7 linked regions of the Homo sapiens genome follow. The protein of the gene in region 1 interacts with the protein of each later gene in a pairwise test. Each region holds a gene or a part of one and is shown on either strand. Other genes may lie near its edges. The genes, in order: PDLIM5, CCDC136, ZYX, KRT40, ATXN1, JPH3 and GABPB1.

Evidence for each region.
Region 2: the proteins of PDLIM5 (region 1) and CCDC136 interact in binary tests that used the Homo sapiens proteins (3 or more experiments, as listed by UniProt).
Region 3: the proteins of PDLIM5 (region 1) and ZYX interact in binary tests that used the Homo sapiens proteins (3 or more experiments, as listed by UniProt).
Region 4: the proteins of PDLIM5 (region 1) and KRT40 interact in binary tests that used the Homo sapiens proteins (3 or more experiments, as listed by UniProt).
Region 5: the proteins of PDLIM5 (region 1) and ATXN1 interact in binary tests that used the Homo sapiens proteins (3 or more experiments, as listed by UniProt).
Region 6: the proteins of PDLIM5 (region 1) and JPH3 interact in binary tests that used the Homo sapiens proteins (3 or more experiments, as listed by UniProt).
Region 7: the proteins of PDLIM5 (region 1) and GABPB1 interact in binary tests that used the Homo sapiens proteins (3 or more experiments, as listed by UniProt).

The regions. Positions count from the first base shown.
Region 1 is NC_000004.12:94,454,942-94,458,441, forward strand, and holds part of PDLIM5 (PDZ and LIM domain protein 5), read left to right. Parts: intron 1-305; 5' UTR 306-347; coding exon 348-443; intron 444-877; exon of another isoform or gene 878-1,302; coding exon of another isoform or gene 1,303-1,617; exon of another isoform or gene 1,618-2,243; intron 2,244-3,500. UniProt on the Homo sapiens protein: May play an important role in the heart development by scaffolding PKC to the Z-disk region. May play a role in the regulation of cardiomyocyte expansion. Isoforms lacking the LIM domains may negatively modulate the scaffolding activity of isoform 1.
Region 2 is NC_000007.14:128,808,968-128,812,467, reverse strand, and holds part of CCDC136 (coiled-coil domain-containing protein 136), read right to left. Parts: intron 3,019-3,500; coding exon 2,824-3,018; intron 2,330-2,823; coding exon 2,102-2,329; intron 1,207-2,101; coding exon of another isoform or gene 1,116-1,206; intron 669-1,115; coding exon 156-668; intron 1-155. UniProt on the Homo sapiens protein: May play a role in acrosome formation in spermatogenesis and in fertilization.
Region 3 is NC_000007.14:143,384,345-143,387,844, reverse strand, and holds part of ZYX (zyxin), read right to left. Parts: exon of another isoform or gene 2,460-3,500; intron 1-2,459. UniProt on the Homo sapiens protein: Adhesion plaque protein. Binds alpha-actinin and the CRP protein. Important for targeting TES and ENA/VASP family members to focal adhesions and for the formation of actin-rich structures.
Region 4 is NC_000017.11:40,977,215-40,981,326, reverse strand, and holds the end of KRT40 (keratin, type I cytoskeletal 40), read left to right. Parts: exon of another isoform or gene 1-2; coding exon of another isoform or gene 3-26; exon of another isoform or gene 27-175; coding exon 176-337; exon of another isoform or gene 338-416; coding exon 417-542; exon of another isoform or gene 543-2,302; coding exon 2,303-2,523; intron 2,524-3,030; coding exon 3,031-3,130; 3' UTR 3,131-3,612; downstream 3,613-4,112. UniProt on the Homo sapiens protein: May play a role in late hair differentiation.
Region 5 is NC_000006.12:16,324,461-16,327,960, forward strand, and holds part of ATXN1 (ataxin-1), read right to left. Parts: coding exon 1,934-3,500; intron 1-1,933. UniProt on the Homo sapiens protein: Chromatin-binding factor that repress Notch signaling in the absence of Notch intracellular domain by acting as a CBF1 corepressor. Binds to the HEY promoter and might assist, along with NCOR2, RBPJ-mediated repression. Binds RNA in vitro.
Region 6 is NC_000016.10:87,686,008-87,689,507, forward strand, and holds part of JPH3 (junctophilin-3), read left to right. Parts: intron 1-3,500. UniProt on the Homo sapiens protein: Junctophilins contribute to the formation of junctional membrane complexes (JMCs) which link the plasma membrane with the endoplasmic or sarcoplasmic reticulum in excitable cells.
Region 7 is NC_000015.10:50,299,699-50,303,198, forward strand, and holds part of GABPB1 (GA-binding protein subunit beta-1 isoform beta 2), read right to left. Parts: intron 3,426-3,500; coding exon 3,231-3,425; intron 1,671-3,230; coding exon 1,559-1,670; coding exon of another isoform or gene 1,523-1,558; intron 1,205-1,522; coding exon 1,091-1,204; intron 1-1,090.

The sequences.
Region 1 (3,500 bases):
TAAAGTACTTTGAGTTAAACTTTGCATGCAAGAAGCCACAAAATTGGATTGAAGCAAGTTGTGAAACATACTAAGTGTCTAGAAATGTATTCTGATATGGAATTTTTAGACCATGGAAATTGCCATGAGTGTAGAAAATTTATATTAGCTCACAGATTGCTTTTCTTAAACTGAAATTAATGAAGAACTTAATTAAGACTTATCTTCTATATCCTCTCACCCCCCTCAAACAAAATACTAAACATAATTTATGTTCTAGGGTTTCAAGTAAACATTTTTGCTAATCATCTGATTTTCTTTCACAGCATATTTCATTTTCTGTCATTGGACTTTGAGCCATTAGAACCATGAGCAACTACAGTGTGTCACTGGTTGGCCCAGCTCCTTGGGGTTTCCGGCTGCAGGGCGGTAAGGATTTCAACATGCCTCTGACAATCTCTAGTGTAAGTAAACTTTACAAATTTTATTATAGATGTTCATTCAGTGCTTAGTCCTCGGGCTGAGTTGTTTAATTCTCTGTTGACCTGTACTCTACTTATTATCATTGCTCCTGGGATTTGATCTTGGCAAATTTGATTATCTATAATAAAGGATGAGGGGAGTAGATTTAGCAAGGATAACTGACTTCAATTTAACTTCTTTTCGTTTTCCCCCATGTTATCAATAATAAAATGGAAAAAGCATTTAACTAGGAACAGACTGTACATTTTTGAACTGTCCCTAATTTGGGGAATTCTCTGAATCTTCGTTCTTTCATATATAATTTTCAAAGGTTGTGCTATGGGATTTTAATAATCTCTTTCAGTTCCAAAAGCTGTTTGTTAAAAACTGTTGATCAAAATTGAATAAAATGATTGTTTCGGAATTATTTCCTCAGCTCACTTTCTGGTGGAGGTGATAGCCAACAGTAAGATGGCCAAAAGCTACTTACCCTTGAAGAGGAAATGAAGGGCTTGGAGCTCCAACTAGATAGCCTATGAATAATTGAGATTTGGCTTTTTACCTCATTATGGATTTAGTTTGAATGTATTCTGTGTATATATTTTAAGGATATGTTTTCATGATGATGATGATAGCACTGATGAGAGGAGTAATTAAAGCTTCTATTTATTGAGACTTGACTATATGTCAGGTACTGTTTCACTTTCATCACCAGTAGGTAATTATTACTATTATATAAGTTTCTAAAAGGTTTGTTTTTGCATATTCAAATAAATATGAATTTCCATCTTCTTTTACTCAAATGGTGGCATATTATACACACAGTTTTTTTTGAGACAGAGTTTTGTTCTTGTTGCCCAGGCTGGAGTGCAGTGGCGCAATCTCGGCTCACCACAACCTCCATCTCCCGAGTTCAAGCGATTCTCCTGCCTCAGCCTCCCGAGTAGCTGGGATTACAGGCATGTGCCACCACGCCTGGCTAATTTTGTATTTTTAGTAGAGACCAAGTTTCCCTATGTTGGTCAGGCTGGTCTTGAACTCCCGACCTCAGGTGATCTGCCCACCTCGGCCTCCCAAAGTGCTAAGATTACAGGCGTGAGCCACCGTGCCTGGCCCACACTGTTTTATACTTTGCTTTTTTTTGCAACAATTTACCCTGAGATCATTCTCTATTAATATATAAGGAGGTATGTGTGTTTTTTTAAAACAATTGTATAATTTTATTTTATAAGGAAAGTGACATTTAACCAATCCCCTACTGAAGAGTATTTGTGGCATTTCCATATTACTGTTACAGTGGTACAGTGAATACCAAATATAAGTACATACATATATATGTGAATATATGTATCTACGTCATTTTGAAAGGTTGTGCCAATTTACACTTTTGTGCAACGCATGAAAATACTATTTTTGTGCCAGTCTTACCAACAAACTTGGATATTTATCAAGTGCTGTGAATGCATCATCTCATTTAATTATCATACCAACATGCAAAATAGTGATATTATTCCCATTGTATATAACTGTGCTGTGCGCTCACATGACTGTATGGAAGAGCTGGCTTTCCAACAGTTATGCTGTGCTGCCTCTTTAATAATTCACTTTACCTTAAATTTAGTTAGTTGTTTCTTTAATCAGATATTTAGAAGATTGTCATTTTGGTTAATAATATATGTGTATGTATAAATATATATACACACACATACTCTGCATCTTGTATGTGTATCCAACTTCATTTTGAAAGATTAAAAATAAGTTTGTAACGCCTAAATATCCTTATTAAAATACTGCAAATCCCATTTTACTAACGGAGTCTCCTTTGTTTCTTGGCTGTGGATTTTTTTAAAGTTATCTTTAATTTATCATCAATTTCTGCCTTGATTTCAGTTAATTAGATTTTATAAGGAAGTATATATATGTAATCCAGCCTGCAAGTTTTAACACCTTTCATGGTTAGATGAAATTTTAAATGTAAAGCATCCATGTGAAAATGTGTCATGTGATTTATTCCTGTTTGAGTGAGTTGGTATTTTATTTCTTCTACTGATGATCTATTATGGGAACAGGAGCAATCTTTGAGTATTATTGGTTTTTACGTTTTGTTAGCATTTTATATTTTAAATATTCTACTTTAATTATCTAAAGAAAGTTATTAGTTTAAATGCTTACTTTTTTGCTGAAAAAAAGTTCAGAAACAAATTGACACCTAAATGAGCCAAACTTAATTATCACTTTGTTGTGTGGTAATAGAAATGCAAATAGAGTATGTTTGCGAATTTTGTGGTACCGTGTCTTTAAAAAAGTTTCATGTGCTTCAGTTTCCTGGCAGACAGTTTGAGGTACTAGCTCCATGTTGTGATGCTGATACAACAGAACACTGTGTACATACATATGTGCCCTCCCCTGGCACAGAAGAAATGCTTTCCTTGTGTAGACAGAGTGCTAATTAAAGGATTTTGAACATACTGATTAAAAGAGACTATGGTAACAAAGCTGCTGAGTTATTTCTGTTCTCTTACAAAAGTCTCTGCCATCTACTGTGACCTTTTTGGGCCTTGTGCAGTGGGGCATGCAATTCATTCTGGACTGGAGAGGATTGGAAGGGGAGGGGAAGGAGAGAAGGGAATGTTGGCTCAATCGGGCTGCTAGGCTCTTGGCCTTTCATTGTAGTTATTTTTAACCCCTTGTGTGGTTTAAATATGCCTAGTAACATTGCCTAATAAAGGTTTGCGTTTAATAACTAATTTATATTGTGGTAAGATTGTTAATGTTATAAATTTTTAACTTACTCTCATCTTAATTAGTTCTTTGGTTATACTTTTTCTGCCTTAATTATGTAAAATTACTGGGATATTACTGGTCATCAGGTTCTTTAATTAATAGTATCAAGAAACAATTAAAACCTGAAAGCATGCTTAAAACATGTAATTTAATGATTCACTTACTTTAATAATGCACATGAAATTCTTAGCAAGGTCTGGCAGTCTCTCAATTATCTTTTATAATAATATTATAAACTTTAAAAAGAAAACTATTTAGAGACTTGAAACATTAAA
Region 2 (3,500 bases), on another chromosome or scaffold:
CTGCCATGGGTAGAGGGCTTCGCTTACTTCCAATAGTTCCCCAGGTCAGTTCTGACCCCATTCCCACACTTCTTGCCCCTTCCCCTGGCGATGTATCTCTTAAAAAGACAAGAGTCCATCGTCCCCTGCCTGACCTGTCACCTGGCAACCATTACCTCCATGTCTTCAGGCTCAGCAGGTTCCTCGTCAGTGCAGCTGCTGACAAAACTCTTCTGGCAGGTGTCAGAGCTACTGGTGCTGCCGTAACTCTTCTTATAGGTAATGCTGCTGTTGCTGGTAGTGCAGTAACTCTTCCCATAGGCCTCACTGGCACTGGTGCTGCTGTCATAGCTCTTGAGAAAGCTCTTGCTGCTGGTCTGGGTGCTGGTGTAACTCTTGTAATAGCTCTCATTGTCATCCACAGTGGTATCATAAGTCTTGCGACAGTTCTCATTGCTGGGGACCATGCTACCATAGCTCTTCCCGTAGGACTCAAGGCTCATTTTTATAGAAGGGGACTGGACTTGAAGCAGCTGCATTTCTTCCAGGCAGAGCTGCAAGTCTGCCTGCAGCCTCTTCCGCTCCTCTAGGAGCCTCCCTTGCTCTTGCTGCAAGAGCTCCTGCTTCGCCTGACCGGCGTCATACATCACCTGCAGGGCCTGCATCTGCTCCATGAGCAGCTTGGATTGCTGGGGGCAGGGGTGGGGAGACAGTATCATTACTCTGACACTTCAGTCCTTCCAGCTGCACCTCTCCTGGTACAGATGTCTGAGAGCACACCTTAGAGAATGGCACACCTACATTTCCACCTCACCCCGGCCTATGTCTCTGACTTAGCCTATAGGTAACTGGCATGTATCAGTTTCTTGCTCATTTGGGAAAATCTCCCCAGGGCAGATACTCCATGATTTCCGGGCTCCCATTTCGGCTGGTTTCTGCACTTTGGTACATCCCTGTCTCCTTGGAGCAGTGCCGAGTGGGTTTCCAGAACACCCTGGCTCCCTACCACACCCTCTTCTCAGTCAGGTATACCTGTTATCCTGACCTTCAGGCTCAGTCCCCTCGCCCACCCCTAGTTCTAAAATCAGCCCCGGCCTTGAATGCGGCAATATGAAGAATTGGAATCAAAGTCTTACTATTAGTTCCTGTATCTCCTGCCCCAATTCTGAATCTGGCCTCTGGGCATGTTGGGCCTGGCTTCTTGGCTGCTGATGTCCAGGATGAGATCTGATCAGTTAAGGAAATATTTTATACCTGGTTCCCAGCTGTGTTACCCAGGCCTCCAGCCTGGACATCTGATGCCCCTGGAATATGATCCAGCCTCACAGTGTTGACTTCTGCTACTCCCTGGTTCTCCTTGTTCAGAATAAGATCTGAATGAATAGATTTGGCCTAAACCGAAACTGTCTACCTGCCCCTCCTTGCCCACGCTGAGACCTCAGAACAACTTTATCCCCCAACCCTGAAGAGAATTGTATGGTGATCTCCACCTGTGTCACCTCATCTGAATGACCTCTTGCTGGTACTTGAGAGGCATCAATTTTCTGGTCTAACCCCTGTGACCTTGCTCTGTTACTGCCACCAAAGTTCCAATGAAGATAGTGTGGTCAGTACTAAGAACCCCATATGCTAGGAATTCTTCTCTTGGAAATGAAAGGCCCCAAATTTGCCTCATAGAGAACACCAAAGGTGATAGATTTTGATAACTGAGAAGTGTACTTTTCCACTCAAGAAAAAGATGACATTTAGAGTCAGTCCAAAGGAATCCAAACAAACACCAAACTGATATTATACATCTTACTGGGAATGAGTCGAATGATCTGATGACAGACTTCTGGTCATCCCAGCTCTGCCCTGAGTGCTCATAGTGCTTCAACTGGGCACTGTGAATATCAGTGTGATAAAGGATAATGGCATCTAGGTGAGGTCCTCAGGCCGTATCTAAAAGCCACCTCTTAATGGAGCCTGTGAGTGGTCACAGCTGGTGAAAGGCAGGGCTTTTGCCTTATCCTTACCCCTGGCCAAACACGCCTTCCCAACTCTGACCCTTCGGCGGTGCCCACTCTCTCTGCCATGCTGTTGTGCTCAGGAGAACTGTCTCCCTACCTCTTGCTATGGTTACCTTGTTTCGATTACATTTGGAGGACTTAGCCAATTTGGAATCATCGGGATTCTCCAACACTTCCTGGAAATGAGACTCTTTGAAACGTCGCAGCTCTTCGTGGATCTCTAATTGTTCTTTTAATACACAGTCTTGGTTCTGTATCAGCTTCTTCTGTTCCTCCTGCATGCCTTGGTAGAGCAGCTGCAGCTCACACAGGTCTTCTAACTTGGTGAGTAGCTCCTGACTCTGAGGCGGAGTAGAAGGAAGGAGGCAAGGGATGGTGGTGGTCACACAGGAAGTCTGATGCCTCCTTGGTGCCTCATCCCCGTTGTGAACAATTCCCTGAAGAATCTCAGGGTTGACTTCACAGAGCCCATCTGGGGACGGGGGAGCCCTTCTATGGAGACCTGCTAAAAGTGGCAGTGGTCTCTTGTGTTGGGATATATTTTGTAGTTTACAAAGTGGCTTCAGGTGCATTTTCTCCAGATGGACTAAATACCTAAATATAAACTGCTGCACAGATTCCTGAGTATAAAAGGTATTTTAAGATTTAAAGCCCTTATAAGAAAAACTCTAATTGGCTCTATGGAGCTTTTTGGTTTGGGGAGAGTGGTGAGAAAGTAAGGAGTGGTTGGTAAGAGAAAAAGTTCAATCCCCACCCTTTTATTTTTCCCTAGTCACACAGGGAAGCTTCTCAGAGCAGCTTCCCCGCAGTTAGCAGCTGCCTGTGGCAGAGTTACCTTGAGTAAGAGGCCACTCTTTGGCAGTGGCAGTGTGAGCCTGTGCAGCTCTTCCTGCAGCTGGCCCTGCTCCTCCTGCATCCTCCTCTGATCCTCCAGGAGCTCACACTGCTCCATCTGCAGCTGCCCCATCTCCTTCTGGCTGGCCTTGTACTTTTCCTGCAATTCTGTCAGTCTGGACAGCAGTGTGTCACACTGTGGGTGGGGGCGGGTGTGGAGGGGGTGGTTACTCTGTAAGGTAAGCTTCTTGGGTGGCTAACAGAGCACTTCTGCGCTCTCCTGCCTCTTGTGATCCTCTCCCTGTGCAGTCACCTTGGACTGGTCACCCCAAGCCACAATGCATTCTGGCTGTTTAGATACCGATTGGGGATCCCCTGCAGGCTGCTCCTTCAGAGCAGGTTGCTCTAGACTGGTGGCTGGCCTTGCTCTAAACTTCCACCATTCCTTTCTGGGGGCAGTTTGATGGGGAATGCTATCGATGCCCCTTTCTCATTTCCCCCTTCCTCTTCTCCGGCCCTTTCCTTTATACACCATATTCCCACCCTGTTGGGAACTCTTAGCTCCTGTTATTCTCATTAACCCCAGTTGTTTTTTAATGCAACTACACTCCTTACAAATAAGGACTTAATTTCACCCTAATTTTTCCCATTTTTGCTTTCCTAATTCTCTCTTTAAAT
Region 3 (3,500 bases), on another chromosome or scaffold:
TCGCCCCCATGGGACAGGGGCACGCAATGGCGTGCACACACGCGCACACACACCTACCCGGCCTGCCTGCTGCTGAGCAGCCCCTGTCAGCGTGAGGATACAACACAGGCAGGAATTGCAGGTTAAACCCACTGAGCTGTCTGCAAGAACCCAGCCCCACCCCCACACAGAGACCCTGTCCCTCGAGTGAGGGGCCTCTGAACTACCTCACTCAGGTCCCTCCCCAGCAGCCTCAGAGAAGGTCCAAAGGCCACCCCCTAGGCCAGCCCAACCTTCCCATTTAGGGGATCCCGGGGACTGGAGTGGGGGGTGGATGTTAAGGACAGCGCTGCCAGTAACCCTGAGAGGTAACCCTGAGAACTCCGGGAAGGGCTGTCTGACCTGCATCAGCACTGCCGGGAGACACGCCCACAGGAGCAAGTGCACTGGGTGGGTCTTTTCTATGTCTGGAAAAGCCTACCCAGGACTGTGGCCCCATCACTGAGTGTGCTACCTGCAGATGCCTTCATTCCCATAACACCTGGAACCTCCAAAGCCCCCCTGCTACCTCCTCCCATAGCCCCTCTCCCCTCAGCCCTGGCTTCACTGCCCCTCACCCCGACCCCCATCTGTACCCAGAGTTGCGTCCTTTCTGCCCAGTGAAGCATGCGTCCATATAAGTCCAACTCTCCAGATCTTAGCCATTTTCCCTTAAGATCTTAGCCATCTTCCCTTAAGATCCTACCATCTCTTAACTGACTCGTTCCCTGGAACACTCACTTCAACTTTGTCTCCTCCAATCTTCCCTTCCTGGCCTCTTGGGGACACAGTGAAGGGGCTCAGTCAGTCCTTGCTCTCCAGTGCCATTCTAAATGCCTGGCTCCTCCTTCAGAAGCACAGAATCCTCATCTGCATCACCTCCCATGGGTATCCCCATTCATCAGGACACTCTATCCAGAACTGCCCCCTCTGCCAGCCTGCACCAATGCCACCGCTTCAAACCAAACTTCCGTCCATCTCAGTCATCATCCATCATGGGACATCCTTGACCTCAGATTTACCTCCAAGTCTCTTGCCAGCCATTATCTGCCTCTCCTCTTCCCCATCCACACCTACTACATGAACCCAGAAAAGCCTTAGTTGCCCCCACCCGCAACCCACCCCTGGACTTTGTCCACCATGCCCCAGCCTGGTCCCATGACCATCTAACTCCTACAGGGTTCACTGTCCCTCCGGGCACCTGCAGCCACCCGCAGCTATCCGGCCCAGTCTCCAACCCCAAGTCACACCACCACCCTCTTCCTGTTTCTGCTTCCAAGCTGCAGAAAGCAGTGGAGAGATCACTGAACACTGCAGCGTGAGCTCACAACACTGCAGCACCCGCGCGACCTCCAGCCCAGCCTTCCCCACAGCAGCCGTTCCAGACCTCTCCATCTCCTGAGCCCCCACCTGCTTCGTCCCTTTGCTCGCACCGTGACCTCACCTCCCACATGGTTGAGGACATGGAAGCCAGCCAGCTTAAGCTCCCTCATCGTCCTTCCTATCCACGCTGCAACCACTCTGTCCTTGCTGTCTGGTATGCCTCTGGGGGAGGAGACATCACCAAGATCTCCTCCAGGGACCGAAGCAGCCTGCCCCTGCTCTCCCACAACACTCACCCTCCATCACCTGCTTCCCCGGGTTACACACGTACCTGAGCCCTTCTCCCCTAACTTGCAAAAACCACATATGCTACACCACAGACTCAAACACACACACCCTCACACATACCCACATACCACTCACATGCACACACACATACCAGACCACACACATACACCACTCACATACACTCACACATATACCACACCACACACACACACTCACACATATACCATACCACACACACACACACCACTCACATTCAGATAATACCACACCAGGCCAGGCGCGGTGGCTCACACCTGTAATCCCAACACTTTGGGAGGCTGAGGCAGGCAGATCACTTGAGGTCAGGAGTTCGAGACCAGCCTAGCCAACATGGTGAAACCCCATCTCTACTAAAAAATACAAAAATTAGCCAGGTGTGGTGGAACGTGCCTGTAATCCCAGCTACTTGGGAGGCTGAGACAGGAGAATCGTTTGAGCCAGGGGGGCGGAGGTTGTAGTAAGCATGGGCGACAGCCTGCACTCCGTCTCCAAAAAAAAAAAAAAAAAAAAAAAAAAGATATACCACACCACACGCTCACACACACCACTCACATATATACACATACGCCACTTGTGTGTATTTGTAAGAAAGTATGTATGTGCACCTTCACTTGTGCAATCACACACCATACACATCACAGCCACACTCACACATGCACACACCTTCACTCACACATGCACACATGTACTCATATACACATACTTTCACACAATCACACTACACACATCACACGCCACTCATACATTCATGCTCACACATGCACATACACTCACATACACCATACCCACACCCACACACTAACACACACACACACGCCACTCATATATTCACATATGTGTATATATACACACACACACACCACTGACACACAGTCCTTCCCTTAGTCCTTTAAGACCAGGCTACACCAGCAGCCCCACTTCTCACCACCCACTCTCTCCTCAACTCCTCACATTGTGTTCCCACCACAGGGCACAAACAGGCCATCCCAAGACCGCTGATGATTTCCCAACAGTCTAATCTCTAGCCTTGAGTCCTCACTCCCTCAAATACCCCACTGAGGAGCTCAGCTCTCTTCTCCAAGTGCACCCTGACTCTCCTCCTGACTCTTCTTCCCGCACCTCCTGGTCCCCGCTGTCTGCACTCCCTGGGAAGCTCCTCCGCTCCGACCCTGACCCTCCAGCGTCACAGTGTCACTGTGCCCCACTACCATGCTAGACATCTCTGGCCCTCTCCTGAAACCTAGCCCTGGATTTCTAGCTGAATGACGGCCCCAGCTGAAAGTCCTCCTGGGACCTGTTGCTCAAAACGTTGACAGCTGGACCCCTCCTCTTCCCGTCCAAACCATTTCCCCTTCTGGACTTCTCTATTTTGTCAGCAATCCTGCCATCCGCCCACACCCCATCTCCAAATCGTGCTGGAGACTTTTTTTTCCCTCTTCCCCTCACCCTTGTCTTCCAATTGCTCATCCCTTGCTAAGTCCTGGAGGCTGTGCCTTCCCAACAGCTCTAGCACACAGCTCTCACATGCACGGTTTAATTTTCATTGCAGCTAACATTACTATTGCCCAAGAGTGAATTCACACCCATCACTGACCTCCCTCGAATACACATCTCTGCTGGTGAAACTTTCCAGAAAGCTTCCAAAAACACTGCTTTCACCAGCCCTCCTGACCCACCCCACACCTACTCAAAAATCATGAATGCCTCTCCAGTGCTCAAGAGCTCCTTGGGTGAGCCACTTCACCTCCTACACCCTCCAGCCCCGCTTGCCTCTCCAAGTATAGCTCTATCATTTTCCTACAGGAACCTTCCACTTTCTGTTCTCCAAACAT
Region 4 (4,112 bases), on another chromosome or scaffold:
AGACGAAGAAACTGAGGCCCTTCTAAGTGGTGAAAAGAGATTCAGCCCAGGCAATCTGAATCAAAATCTCACACTTTTACCCACTGCTCCAAAAAACAGAAGTAGAATGCCATTGGATGTCAAATGGATTTTTCCCCACCATTCTGTGACATTCTTTACACCATCCCACTTTCAGGAAGTCAACTTGCTTCGTGAACAGCTTGGCGACCGCCTCAGTGTGGAGCTGGACACTGCCCCCACCCTTGACCTCAACAGGGTCCTGGATGAGATGCGCTGTCAGTGTGAAACGGTGCTTGCCAACAATCGCAGAGAAGCTGAAGAATGGTTGGCTGTTCAGGTCAGTACCCAGATTGAAAAAATGTCAGGCTTACAGACTTCTGCCTTTTTTGAATTCTCTAATGGTGTCTGTGTTTCAGACAGAAGAGCTGAATCAGCAGCAACTGTCCAGCGCGGAGCAGCTGCAGGGCTGCCAGATGGAGATCTTGGAACTGAAACGCACAGCCAGTGCTCTGGAAATTGAGCTCCAAGCACAGCAAAGCCTGGTGCGTGAGGCAAAGGCAGTGTCCGTTGTGTCACTGATAAGTCAGGCCCTGAGATGTTAAGCCCTCTTCCATATCCGAGGATCACATTTCCTTGCCTTTCCCGAGTACTGCCGTTTACCCAGCTATTAATAGAAGCAGAAGTGACAGGTCCACAGCTTGTCCTCTAAGATGCCTTACCTTCACTCCTGGGCTTGAGTCTGATGCTGCAGCAGCCTCCAGAGACAGGGAGGGAGAAGCAGAGCTGGAGAGAAACCTCCGGGCCATGGTCGCTTAAGCATTCTGGCAGGTTTTAATTCTCATTTGATTCAGGCCAGTTTTCCAGGCTCACTGTTATATCTAAAACAAAGAATCATTTTCAAACATTTCATCCTACAGTTTCCCAGGATCTACACTTCAACCTTATCCTTCACTGCACCACCCCCCACTCAAGCAACAGGAACACCATGCGTTCAAGATGACATGAACCAGTTCTGGTCAAGCACCACTGTGTGCATGTCATTAGGCCCTGCGGAGAACACCTAGAAGAACAATAGCTGAGCATTCATCCTGTGAGAGGCACTATGCTGATTTAAGGCTCACAGTAACTTTACCGGATAGATACCTTTATCCCATGACACAGATAAGGAAAACTGAGACTCAGATTAAGTAACTTGCAAAGGATGCAATTCTAAGAGGCAAACTTGGAAGCTGAGTTCAGCCAGTTGAATCCCAGAGTCTCTTCTCTCTCTCTTTTTAAATTTATTTTTATTGATATATAATATGCGTAAATTTTTTTTACGTAGATGTGATATTTTGTTACATGCATAGAATGTGTAATGATCAAGTCAGGATATTTAGAGCATCCATCACCTCAAGTATTTATCATTTCTATGTGTTGGGAGCATTTCAAGTCCTCCCATCTAGCTATTTTGAAATGCACAGTGTATTGTTGTTAACTGTAGTCACACTTCTCTGCTGTCCAACATGAAAACATATTCTTTCTGTCTAACTGTATGTTTGCACCCATTAACCAACCTCTCTTCATCCCCTTACCACACATATGCCAGTCCCAGCCTCTGGTATCCAGAGCCTCTTCTCTTAATAGCACTATACTACCCCTCCCTGCCAAGAGCCCAAACTCAATCTTTCCTCTCATATGTTGTGGATAGTCCTTAAGCTTCACAAATATGTCATGTATTGCTGTAGTCATAGTGGTGGTAGTGATAGTTGACACGTAGAACAGTGGCAGTATGGCTGGCACTGTTCTAAATGCTTTACGCACATTAACTCTTTTTTTTTTTTTTTGGACGGAGTCTCCCTCTGTCGCCCAGGCTGGAGTGCAATGGCATGATCTTGACTTACTGCAAGCTTTGCCTCCCGGGTTCACACCATTCTCCTGAGTAGCTGGGACTACAGGCGTCCACCACCGTACCCAGCTAATTTTTTATATTTTTAGTAGAGACGGGGTTTCACCGTGTTAGCCAGGATGGTCTCGATCTTCTGACCTTGTGATCCGCCCGCCTCGGCCTCCCAAAGTGCTGGGATTACAGGCCTGAGCCACCGCGCCCAGCCCGCATATTAACTCTTAATCTTCACAACCGTCTAATGAAACAGATACTTTGTATTCTCCACTATACAGAGAATAAAACTGAGACTCACAGAAGCTAAATAATTTGCCAGTGGTCACATAGCTAGAAAAGGGTAAGCAGGAATTTGAAAGTAGGCACTCTGGCCCGAGAGACTGCACTTCATGGTCCTTTGGACAATGTTTCCTCCCGCAGACAGAATCTCTGGAATGCACCGTGGCAGAAACCGAGGCCCAGTACAGCTCCCAGCTGGCCCAAATTCAGTGTCTGATCGATAACCTGGAGAACCAGCTGGCCGAGATCCGCTGCGACCTGGAGCGACAGAACCAGGAGTACCAGGTGCTCCTGGACGTGAAGGCCCGGCTGGAGGGTGAGATCAACACGTACTGGGGCCTGCTGGACAGCGAGGACAGCAGGCAAGTTCCACAGTTACTCATGAAATCCCCCAGAGTCACAAAGAGGCTGATGTAAAAGAATCCTGTTTCCCCAAAGTCTGGACAAGTTCAGACCTCCCCAGTGTGTTTAGGGATCTTCTTAAAAAAGTGCTGAAAAGTGGCTGAGGTTAAGAACATGACACTAGAGATATTTTTAAAATATTCTAAAGGCAGATTAATTATTAGTGTAACATTTCATGCTGGCATCTCCCTTTGTTCCTGTTTTCCACTAAAGGAAAATCAGGAATAGGCCTAAGATAACATTTGCAAAATCAAGAAAAAATATAAAATACTATTCAACTGCCACTGCTACAGTGAACATGAAGTGGCAATTCTGGGTGCAGAGAAGAAACAGGCTTCAGTCAATGCTATTGTGCAGAGTTTTTTTCAGAACATAATTTGTAGGGCAAATTTTGACACGGTTTTTCTGAGTTGCCATTTTATCAACATTCCCTTGTTAATCTTGGTTGAAAATCGATTTTTCCCCAGGCTTTCCTGTAGCCCATGTTCGACCACATGCACCTCGAGCAACACTTGTGAGCCATGCTCAGCCTATGTCATCTGCACTGTTGAAAACTGCTGCTTGTGAATGTTAAGGACAGCAGGTAGAGGAATCAAAGCCAGCAGCATCCTAGAAAGGAGATGGGGCTTCAACCAGGGACATCCAAACCGGAAGCACAAATCCAGGAGGCTCTCATATCCTGGAATTGCCCTCCAGGTATCCTCAGTCTTTCTGCTTTACTATTTCCTCTCCTTCCGGCTTATTTGTGGTATACTGGAAGCCCATAAAGCATTCTTGCTCATCTCCAAATAAAACGTGTTTTATTCCTTTAGCGTGGTAAATATAGCTCTATGGCTGATTACTGTTGATAGAATATTCATTTTATGGCAAGGAAATCATCTAAACCCATAACCATAGTTTCAATGTACATAAACCCAGGCTGAAAATATTTTTTAACTCCTCAAATACAAATAAATTAATGAACCCATGAGAAATGTCATATATCTTAGAAAATAGTTGTGTGTATCTTTCTGAGGAAAAATATTAGGAATAAAATATGATAAAATGTATTTTTTGATTATAAAAGTACTAGATTCTCTTTTTTTAAATTTGGCTCATTAAAAGGGAAAAGGTCACTTATGATTTCATCTTCCAAACAGCCATAGTCAATATTTTGGGGTACTTTCTTCCAGTTTTCTTTCTTATAATAGATTTTTCCACACAGCTATAATCATACTAACATATGCACACACTTGTGTAAACTTTCTTTCATTTATGTCATCTAAGCATTTTTAATTCTAATAAAAACATAAGATTGTATTGTAGCCATCACTTTTTTTATTTTTTATTTTTTTTTTGAGACAGAGTCTTGCTGTGTCACCCAGGCTGGAGTGTAGTCACACTATCTGGGCTCACTGCAACCTCTGCCTCCTGGGTTCAAGCGATTCTCCTGCCTCAGCCTCCCAAGTAGCTGGGACTACAGGTGTCTGCCACCACACCAGGCTAATTTTTTTTTTTTTTTAGTAGAGACAGGGTTTCACCGTGTTAGCCAGGATGGTCTCAATCTCTT
Region 5 (3,500 bases), on another chromosome or scaffold:
AAAAATGCCCAAAACAATTCAAACCATTAATTAGTTTATCTTTTTTTTCTTGTTTTATTTTATCTGAATGTCCCAAATAGCAGCTATTTCATGACTATTTTCAACTCAAGCTGGAAGGAGGCTCTGTCCCATTTGAATGTTTTCAAATCCTAGATGGAAACACTTGTAGAAAGTACGCTCGATAGCCAGGAAAGCTCTCAGCTGCAGGCTGAACCTGCTGGACTCCCAGCAACTTGGGCAGTGAAAGAAATGGGCTGTGGAATAAATGCATGTAATCGATCTAAGAACCTGGAAAAGGGTAGATTGAAGGAGCCTGTGGAAATTAAGAGCGTTAACCATACTTCCAGTGACTCATCTTGGCTACAGCTGACTTTACCCCAAGCCCAGCAGGTCACCTGGGACAGCCCTGACTTCTCAGATTGTATTAACCACGCTTTTATTTTCTGATGCTTTGATATTTTAGTGTCTTGTGGATCCCAGAGGTATAGTCTCTCCTAGGATTAGCTAATTCCTAGAGGCCTGACTTTTATATGCAAACCAACCAGTCCAGAGCTAATTCCTAGGAGCCTGACTTTCATATGCAAACTAACCAGTCCAGAGCCCACTCCCCAGCAGCCTCCTATATTGGTCCATCACACTTAGGGCTGCCTTCCATCTGTTTTTTTTTTTTTGTCTGAGACAGAGTCTTGCTGTGTGTCCAAGGCTGGAGTGCAGTGGCCTGATCTCGGCTCACTGCAATCCCCACCTCCCGGGTTCATGCAATTCTCCTACCTCAGCCTCTGGAGTAGCTGGGATTACAGGCACACACCACCATGCCCGGCTAATTTTTGTATTTTTAGTAGAGACAGGGTTTCACCATGTTGGCCAGGCCGGTCTCGAACTCCTGACCTCTGGTGATCCACCCGCCTCAGCCTCCCAAAGTGCTGGGATTACAGGTGTGAGCCACTGTGCCCAGCCCTTCCACCTGTATTGATCACCCCAGCACCAGCAGCCAGACAACTAAGGACAGCCCCTACACCCCAGAGCACACTGGAATTATCCACTCTAACCAATCCTAAACCCGTTTACCCTGCCTCCCATGAAACCACAATAAAGGCTGTTGTTTGCCACATTTCCCCTCACTCCCTCCACCTCCTGACCCACCTGGGGCTTCCCCAGGTGCCCCCCACTTTACGGTGTTCTACACCTCTTGGTGTAGAGTGCCCTTTCCTCTTGGGATCAGAGAGTATAAAAATTATCTCGTCAAAGAGAGTTGTCTGCTGATCTATCTGTTGGCCTTATCATACCTAAATAATAAGACATTATATATATGTTGGAGACCGGGCCTTGCTATGTTGCCCAGGCTTGAGTGCAGTGATAGTCACAGGTTCAGCCATAGCTCACTACAGCCTCGAACTCCTGGGCTCAAGTGATCCTCCTGCCTCAGTCTCTGGAGTAGCTGGGACCGAAGGCATATACCACTGTACCCAGCTAATAAGACATATTTTAAAACATGGATGTTGCAATGGGATATGATTGCTTTAGCATCTAATCCCCTCACTCCAACGGCATCCTCTGTCTTTTCCTGGTAAGAAAAAGTGCCGAATGACCACTAGAAGGACCTGAAGTCCAGCAGCGTTTCCTAATCAGGGTTCCTCATCTTAATCACAGAATTCAAAAAATAACTAGAGTGGTGAGTTTCTGGATTGTCTCAAGGACTCCATAACTAGCCCCACTCTCCATGCATGGAGGTTAATTCATTACACACAGCAGAGATCACGGGGAAATGGGGCTTATTTTTTCTAGAGAACGCAGTTGGGAAAGGCCGAGTCTAAGGTCTAGGTGTACCCGAGAACCCTTAATCCTGCCTCATAGAAGCAATTCGTCTTGCCAGGAGATGATGATGGCATCACGGTGTGGTGTCCCATCCCTGTGCCACCCTGGCTAACGTTACCTGGGCTCGGTGCTCCCCGACGGCGAACTGTATCACGGCCACGCCCGGGCTATGGCTGTCTTCAATCCTCTCTACGGTGCTGGAGTCGATCTTCAGGTCGTTGCTTATCTCTGCACTCTGGATGAAATCTTCTGTTTTTAAGTCTTCCACCTTCTTTAGCTCCCCGTTGGCCAACTGGATGATGGAGCCTTTCATGAAGTAGGGAGGCAGCGTAGGGGGAGCCGCCGCCGGGGAGGCCACGGACTGCACCACAGGCAGGTGGATCTGGGCCTGCACCATGGCTGGGTAGGCGGCCTGGGTGACCAGGGCCTCAGGGTTGAAGTTCTCGCTCTTGGGAAGGGCGGTGGTGACGAACGTGTGAGGCACTGCAGCAAACTGGGGGGATGACGTGACTATGGCCGGGGCTGCCCCCGACGCTTCCATGTCAGTGCTGCCGACCGGGATGAGCAGGGGCTGTGTGCCGGGGATCACCAGGTGCTGGGGCAGGCTGCCGGCGTAGGTGATTGCTTGCTGCTGGCCGCTCAGGTAGCCGATGACAGGGGGTTGAGTCCCTGCGTAGAAGGCCGTGGCTGGCAGTCCCACCGGGAGTGGCTCTGAAGCACTGTGTGTGGTCTGAATGACCGTGTGGGGTGAGAGCGCGTAGGACCGGTGGCCAGGCTTCCCTAAATGCAGGCCACTTTTGTCGTTGAGGGTAGAAGGGGAGGCTTCACGATGAGTGGCCTGTTGCACCTCCAGGTCAGCTGCGGGCGTGTTGCTGTTGGGCAGGACCATCACAGAGGCCCGGACCCCCGAAGGATCACGACTGCTGTAGTCTGAGGGGCTCGGGTGGACCACCACGTGCCTGGACTCGTACGGGTGAGGAACCGACTTGCCGCCTGCCTTGCCCAGGCCCAGGTCGGCTGAGGACGGGGCCCCGTACCGCCGGCTCTTCTCCATCTCACCGTTCAGGACCTCCTTGGCCTGGATGGCCTGCTGCAGCCGGCTGCTCTCAGCTTTCTTGGTGGCCTCCCGAGGGACAAAGTGGCTGCCGGAGTCGGCGTATTGCATGACGACCTGGGAGGGGGGCCCCAGGGTGAGCGTGTGTGGGATCATCGTCTGGTGGGGGTGGAGGTGGACGGGGATGGCCGGAGGAGAGGCGGTGCGGCCGGTGTTCTGCGGAGAACTGGAAATGTGGACGTACTGGTTCTGCTGGGCTGGTGGGGGGGACCCCGGGGTGATGAGCCCCGGAGCCCTGCTGAGGTGCTGCTGCTGCTGCTGCTGCTGCTGCTGCTGCTGCTGCTGCTGATGCTGATGCTGCTGCTGCTGCTGCTGCTGCTGCTGCTGCTGCTGCTCAGCCTTGTGTCCCGGCGTCTGGCTCAGACTGCCCATGTTGGCCAGCAGAGTGGAATAGGCCTCCAGCTGGGAGCGCTGGGATGGAGTGGTGGCCCCTGCGGCCGAGGCCACTGCACTGGTGACGGGGTTGGCGGTTGGGGGGATCAGCTGTGATGGGATGAAGCTGGCATAGGTTCCACTGTATTGGGAGGACCCAATGAACTGGAAGGTGTGCGGCAGGTGAGCGTACTGCACG
Region 6 (3,500 bases), on another chromosome or scaffold:
AAGAGGAGGAGACAGGGGCGGATGGAGTGATGTCAGAGATCACTGGAGACTCCGTGGCTGGAGGGTGGCTGGAGCGGAGACCCTGGAAGGAAGCAGCACTCCCGACACCTGGATCACGGCTTCTAACTTCCAGAAACACGAGTTTGCCTTTTGGGTGTTTCTACCCCCACCCCCGCGTGGTGCTTTACTGCTCCAGTCCCAAGAAATGGGTGCAGGCTCCCCCACCCTGAGAATTCCAGTTAAGACTCTGGAGTCGGAGATGCTTCCTGGAGGGCTCAGTCCTGGAGTCAGAGGAGATGCTTCCTGGAGGGCTCAGTCCTGGAGTCAGAGATACTTCCTGGAGGGCTCAGTTCTGGATTCAGAGGAGATGCTTCCCAGAGGGCTCAGTCCTGGAGTCAGAGATGCTTCCTGGAGGGCTCAGTTCTGGATTCAGAGGAGATGCTTCCCAGAGGGCTCAGTCCTGGAGTCAGAGATGCTTCCTGGAGGGCTCAATCCTGGAGTCAGAGATGTTTCCCGGAGGGCTCAGTCCTGGAGTCAGAGATGCTTCCTCGAGGGCTCAGTCCTGGAGTCAGAGATGCTTCCTGGAGGGCTCAGTCCTGGACTTGGAGATACTTCCTGGAGGGCTCAGTCCTGGATTCAGAGGAGATGCTTCCCAGAGGGCTCAGTCCTGGAGTCAGAGATGCTTCCTGGAGGGCTCAGTCCTGGATTCAGAGGAGATGCTTCCTGGAGGGCTCAGGTCCCTGCAGGAGGGGCCTTGGGCTGACCTTTTAAGTCCTGAAGCTGCCTCCTCCGACAGTTCTTGTCTTCATGATACAGATGCGGGCCCCTGTGGGGGCCGCTGTGATGGAGAGACGGGGCCGCTGCTGCCTCACTGGTGGGAGTCCAGTCCTCGAGGGTCTGGCCAAGTTGGCCTCACCTCCTGCTGCTGCACCTTGGAGCCTGGCTCACTCTGAGCACCTCGGTCCGATCTGCCACCTCTTTGGGTGGCGCCCCGGAGCCTTCTCTGAGCAGCATCTTCCCTGGAGGGGGCGTTGGGACCGTGTGTTTTTTACAAGCGCTGGGACTGGCATGAGATTTGATCCAAGCATTTCTTGTTTCCGCCTTGGATGCATTCAGGATCAGTGTTCCCAGACCAGGCACCCCGGGGCCTTCTCGGCTGCTGGGGAGGGGTGGGGCTGGGGGAAGCTGTCCAGGTCCTTCCTCAGTCGTCCTCACAGCCAGGAGCTGAGGTCACCAATGACAGATGACAGAACAGAGCCTCCAAGAGGGGAACAGGGTTGCCAGAGCGCTCAGGCAGGATGTGGTGGAATCAGGATTTAAAACGAGGCTCTGAAGCCTGGGCCATGCCGGCTTCTAGAGAAGCAAACCATCCAGCGCTTCGGCTGCAGAGAGTGGCTGGCGCCAGCCTCTTGCTGCCTGTCTGGGAGGTCCCTGGCAGCCTCCCAGCCCGAGAACTCTGACCGTCAGGGTTCTGCCCAAGGCCACGTGAAGGCAGGACCATGAAGGAGCCTGGCCATGCGGTGTCCAGTGCCCAGGCCACTTCCGGTGCCATCCGCCCCCGCCCCAGAGGCAGGAGGACTGAGCGTCGGAGGCTGCAGGACGCAGGTGGCTTGAAGGCACAGGAAGAAGCTGCAGGGGCTTCACGAGGACCCGCCCTGCATCCTCACCACGAGGCTTCTAGGAACGTTACCTGCTCAGCAGCTCATTCTAGCTGAGGGTGCCCTCCTGCTGGTGGTGCTGGGAGTCGGGGCCCCTCTAGCGTGGGGTCTCCTGGGCCAGCCAGGCCTGATCTCGGCAGCAGTGGGTGGACGACCTGGTGGGAAAGGCCGGGGCGCCATCGGGGGATGGGGGGGGCCTTGATCCCAGCCTGCTAGGTCCATAGCGTCTAAGGCACAGGAATGCCAGCCCCTTGGAAGTCCCATCCTGGCCAAGGAGGAGGTACGATGTGGGTGATCCGTGGGCATGATTGGGGGCCTCTGATGGGGCCAGGGCTGCCCTCCACACAGGACCCTCACGGGGAGAGAGGTGGTGGGGCTGGGCGTCAGGTGGGTACGTGGATGTCAGCACAGTTCTACACAGACCTTCTCTGGCCCATTCCCTGCTCTGCTCGGGGGACACCCAACCAGCCCAGCCCTGTTTCTGGGGAGTGACCACAGAGAAGCAGTCATTGAGACCTCAGAGTGGCCCACCCACACCCCCGTGTGACAGGAACTCAGACTTGGGAGGGCTGGCCACCCACCCAGAGCTACCCAGCTGTGCCCCAAGCCCCAGGCCAGGGCCATGGCCTCGCTCTGCTCAGCACTGCCTCTTAGACCAGCAAGGAGGAGGACACAGCAGCCCAGCCTGGTGGCGTCGCAGCGTGCCCCGAATCTGCTTGCTAACGTCTCTTTACAAACGGAGGGACTATCTGGTGCCACACCGAGGGTAGCCATGTCTCCCAGACCTTCTCCTGCCAAAAGGTCAGACTGGGGTACAGGCGTCTCCCAGACCTTCTCCTGCCAAAAGGTCAGACTGGGGTACAGGCCAGGAGAATGTCCGAGCGTGAGAGACTCTAAGATGGGCAGTGGCTCTTGGTGTCCGAGCTGGTCTCATGAGGTGGCCGCCCCGGGTAGAGCTCTGAGACCTCCGTCCTCAGAGGGAAGACTCCCCAAATTCCCACAGAGCTCTGCACCATTTTGGCTCGGGCAGGACGGGGATGCTGGGGGCGGGGGTCCCACTGTTCTGTGCTGAGCCTAGGACGCTACTTGAGATGAACGTGTAACTGTTCCCCGGAGGGTAAGAAGCGCCGCGTTCTTGGGTTTCTCCTAATGGAATAAAGTCGGGCATGGCTCCCGTGTCCCTGCGTTGGCAGGAAATGAGATCCCAGTCAATGTTCTTGGTTCTCACCTCCTGCTGGGGGCTCACGGAGCTCCGGAGAAGTCTCGGGGCTAGTCCTACAATGCTGCCCCTCCCTATCCAGGCCTCCGGGTGGGGGCTGATGGGGACTGAGCCACCGGCAGACGACAGGGACTCTGCTGGCTGCAGAGCTGGCCCCTGGGTCCTGTGGTGACCTCCCCTTCCGGGGAGCCCCGCCCTAGGACTTGAAGCCCCAGCAGCCTCGAAAGGTGGGGAGGGAAGTCGGCTCCTGGGCTCTCACGCTGGCCCCGGCACTGGCTGTTTCTCAGCAAGACTGTCCCAGCACCCTGAGACACAGTCCCAGGCGGGTAGGGGTGTTGGCGGCCTTGCTGTGACAGCTCGGCCTCCCCAGACAGGTGGTCAGCTAGGGTGAGGGGCTTCCTCTTACCCTCAGGACAGGCGAGTCAGGGTTGGTGGGACCTGAGTCCACACCCCAGCGTCCTCACGCACTTTCCGAGCCTTGGGTCTCCCTTGTAGCCTGGGAGCTGCTGTCCGCCCTTCCTGTGGTGCCTGGGCCTAGCCAGTCTCCCTCCAAGTGTCTGTGGGGTGGGGACCACGGGGGTCCCACAGAGGGCTTTGGGAGCCACGGTCCCCACTCCCCTCCC
Region 7 (3,500 bases), on another chromosome or scaffold:
AGGTAACCCTTTAACAGTGGTTTCTGTATACTATTTCCTAGTTCTATCAGTCATTAAGATTTTATAACACTCTAGTAGAGCTGCTAAAAATTAAAATTTATGAAAAAAGTGTTTTTTGGTTTTGGGTTTTTTTTTTGAGGCAGGGTCTCATTCAGTCGCCTAGGCTGGAATGCAGTGGCATGATCTTGGCTCATGGCAACCTCTGCCTCCCAGGTTCAAGCGATCCTCTGACCTCAGCCTCCTGAGCAGCTGGGACCACAGGAGTGGACCACCACACCTGACTAATTTTTATATTTTTTGGTAGAGATAGGGTTTCACCATGTTGCCCAGGGTTCTGGGCTCAAGCAATCCACCTATCTTGGCCTCTCAAAGTGTTAGGATTACAGGTGTGAGCTACCATGCCCAGCCAAAGTGAGTTGTTTAAACAAAAAGTCACAAACTAGTAAATCAAGAGCCAAATTAGAGACAGGGACATTTTTTTCTGTGAGCCACACAAGTTTTGTTTTTCAATTAGTTACCAAGATTTAATGTTCTTTTAAAATCCAGATTCACAGCTTCCTATTAAAAAACAGAATTTGGGAATACTGGACTGATGACTATAATCAGCTAGAGTTGAGTCACAGATGCCTCCCTGCCCTTGCCCCATTCTTCAGCCGGGTGTAATCTCAATCCTGCCCACTTTAGCCTTTTATTGTCTTCCTGGCCTTTGTAAATATTTGAATCTGCAACTGTTTTTGGTTTTTTTTTTTTTTTTTTTTTTTTGAGACAGAGTCTTGCTCTATCACCCAGGCTGGAGTGCAGTGGCACAAACTCAGCTCACTGCAGCCTTCACCTCCCGGGTTCAAGCAATCCTCCTGCCTCAGCCTCCCGAGTAGCTGGGATTACAGGCCATGTGCCACCACGCCTGGCTAATTTTCTGTATTTTTAGTAGAAACAGAGTTTCACTATGTTGTCCAGGCTGGTCTCAAACTCCTGAGCTCAGGCAATCCACCCGCCTCGCCCTCCCAAAGTGCTAGGATTACAGGTGTGAGCCACGGCACCCAGCCTGAATCTGCAATTTTAATGTACACATTAGACTCGTTTTTCTAACCTGGAGTTTCTGAAGAATTGGACAATGGAGCAGATGCTTCAGCTAAGGCAGCTAATGTAGCTAATACTGATGTAGAAGAGTTTCCAAACTGAACAGCAGATACACCCGTTTCATCTGTAAGAAAAAAGAAAATAGATTTGAATTTCTAAGGAGCTTAATCCAATGCATATTTCTGATATTCTATTTATCTTACTGACTCTTAAACAAAGCTTGGATAGCATTAGCTTTTGAAAGGTAATACTGCAGTAAATTTTGTAATATCACCTTTCTTCAGATTGTTTTGTCTCATAAAAATCTTTTTGCCAGTTATACCAAAGAAAACAAAGGTGGCTGATAGAATCTTACCCTCATTCTCCAACCGTCCTTTCTTACAAGGATGAATACCTACTAAAGCATAAAATCCCAAAGCCTATCCTATATGCATCTCAATACCTGTTGCCTTGGATGAATTTTCTGAAGATACCAGACCTGTTAGGTTCACCACCCCTCCAGGTCCAATGATAAACTGTGGTGTTGCAGCATGTATTGTCACAGTGTCAGGACTCTCTGGGTTTGTGTTGATTTGGTTCTGCATAGCAATCTAGGGAAAAAATGACCACAGTGTTTTCAGAATTATAACCAGAACATATAGCACAAATTCTCCATATAATACAAACACATATAAAGGAGTATTCTCTAAGAAGAATCACATAGTACAAGTGGAAATATTTGTCTAAGGTCCACTGACAGTGTAGGGGCACATCATGGGTATATATTTATATCCCAAGTCCCCCTCTTAGGTAAAGCAGCAAAATCCTGGGAGAGGAGAAACGAGTATCTAAAAGGTTTTTAACAGAACACAGAACAACTGGACATTAAGCTGGCTGAGGTGGCAGGTGCCTGTAATCCCAGCTATTCAGGGGGCTGAGGCAGAAGGAGTGGTTAAGCCCAGGAGTTCAAGACCAGCATGGGCAACATAGTGAGACCCCCATCTCAAAAAACAAAAACAAAAACAAAACAAACAAAAAATATTTCTGCCCTGTAGCTATAGGAATTTAATTATTTCTTCTACGTTTGGCAATACATAATACCACATATATAAAGCATGTCCTTCTCAATTAATTGTTCCCCATCTTCAACTCCAACCCCCAAACTGCACTCTTAGGAGTAAAAGGAATGAAAAGAGGCATGGTAGAATTCATTTTCCTGAACATAAAACATCTTTTAAGTAACTAGTGGAAGCTCAAAGGAGTCAGATAGTCTTAGAAAAGAAGAGTTCTACTGCTGGGATTGGGAACAAACAGGCAAGAAGAGGCAGTAATTAAAGAAGATAATTTATATTATGTCATCTGGCTGAAAATAAGAGAAGTAATGTTGGTTACTAGAAAAATCTTCCCAAAAGCCAAAAACAACAGATATTTTTGAGGATGCTGAAAGATAAAAGAAACAAATCAAACTGCATCACTCACTCAAGGAATGATATTATGGTTGCTAATATATATGTTTTTTAATTTTTATAAAGTCATTTATAGTAGACTTGGAAAAACCATATAGTATCAAAATGCAACAAAAATAATAGAATAAAATGTCTAGGGCCAGGCGCAGTGGCTCACGCCTGTAATCCCAGCACTTTGGGAGGCCGAGGCAGGCAGATCGCCTGAGCTCAAGAGTTCAACACCAGCCTGGGCAACATGATGAAACACCATCTCTACTTAAAACACAAAAAATTAGCCAGGCATGGCAGCATGCACCTGTAGTCCCAGCTATTTGAGAGGCTGGGGCAGGAGAATTGCTTGAACCCAGGAGGCAGAAGTTGCAGTGAGCCAAGATCGTGCCACTACACTCCAGCCTGGGGGACAGATCAAGACTCTGGCTCAAAAAAAAAAAAAAAAAAAAAAAAAAGGTCTAAAGGGAAATTCAGAAACTTAAAAAACAGAAAGTAATCACCTTATCTAATGTTAATGAAGAGACTGGCCTTATAATCAAGAAAATGAATAGTAATAAACAAAGAGGAAGTGAAAGAGAAAAAGGCCTATCCAAAATAACTAAGTCCAAAATGAAAGGCTACAAACAATAGTTTAAATCATGCACAATATAAGAGATCCCTCTACTGATAAGGCTTCTTTTTCTTTATTTTCTTAAATTAAAAGCCAAAAGTTACCTGTAATATCTCTGCTAAATCTTCATTTCCATTGTCTATTGAAATATCAAATGCAGTTTTACAAAATTTACTTTGCGTGTGTACATCAGCACCATATTTGATTAAAAGTTCCACCACCTCTTGATGATTGTGTTCTGTGGCCCAATGGAGAGCTGTCATCTTTAACATGTCCTTTGCATTGACATCAGCACCATGCTACAAAAATATTTCAAAGAGTTTACTAAAATATGAAATATCACATAAAAAATTCCTGATATGAAATTATTAGTT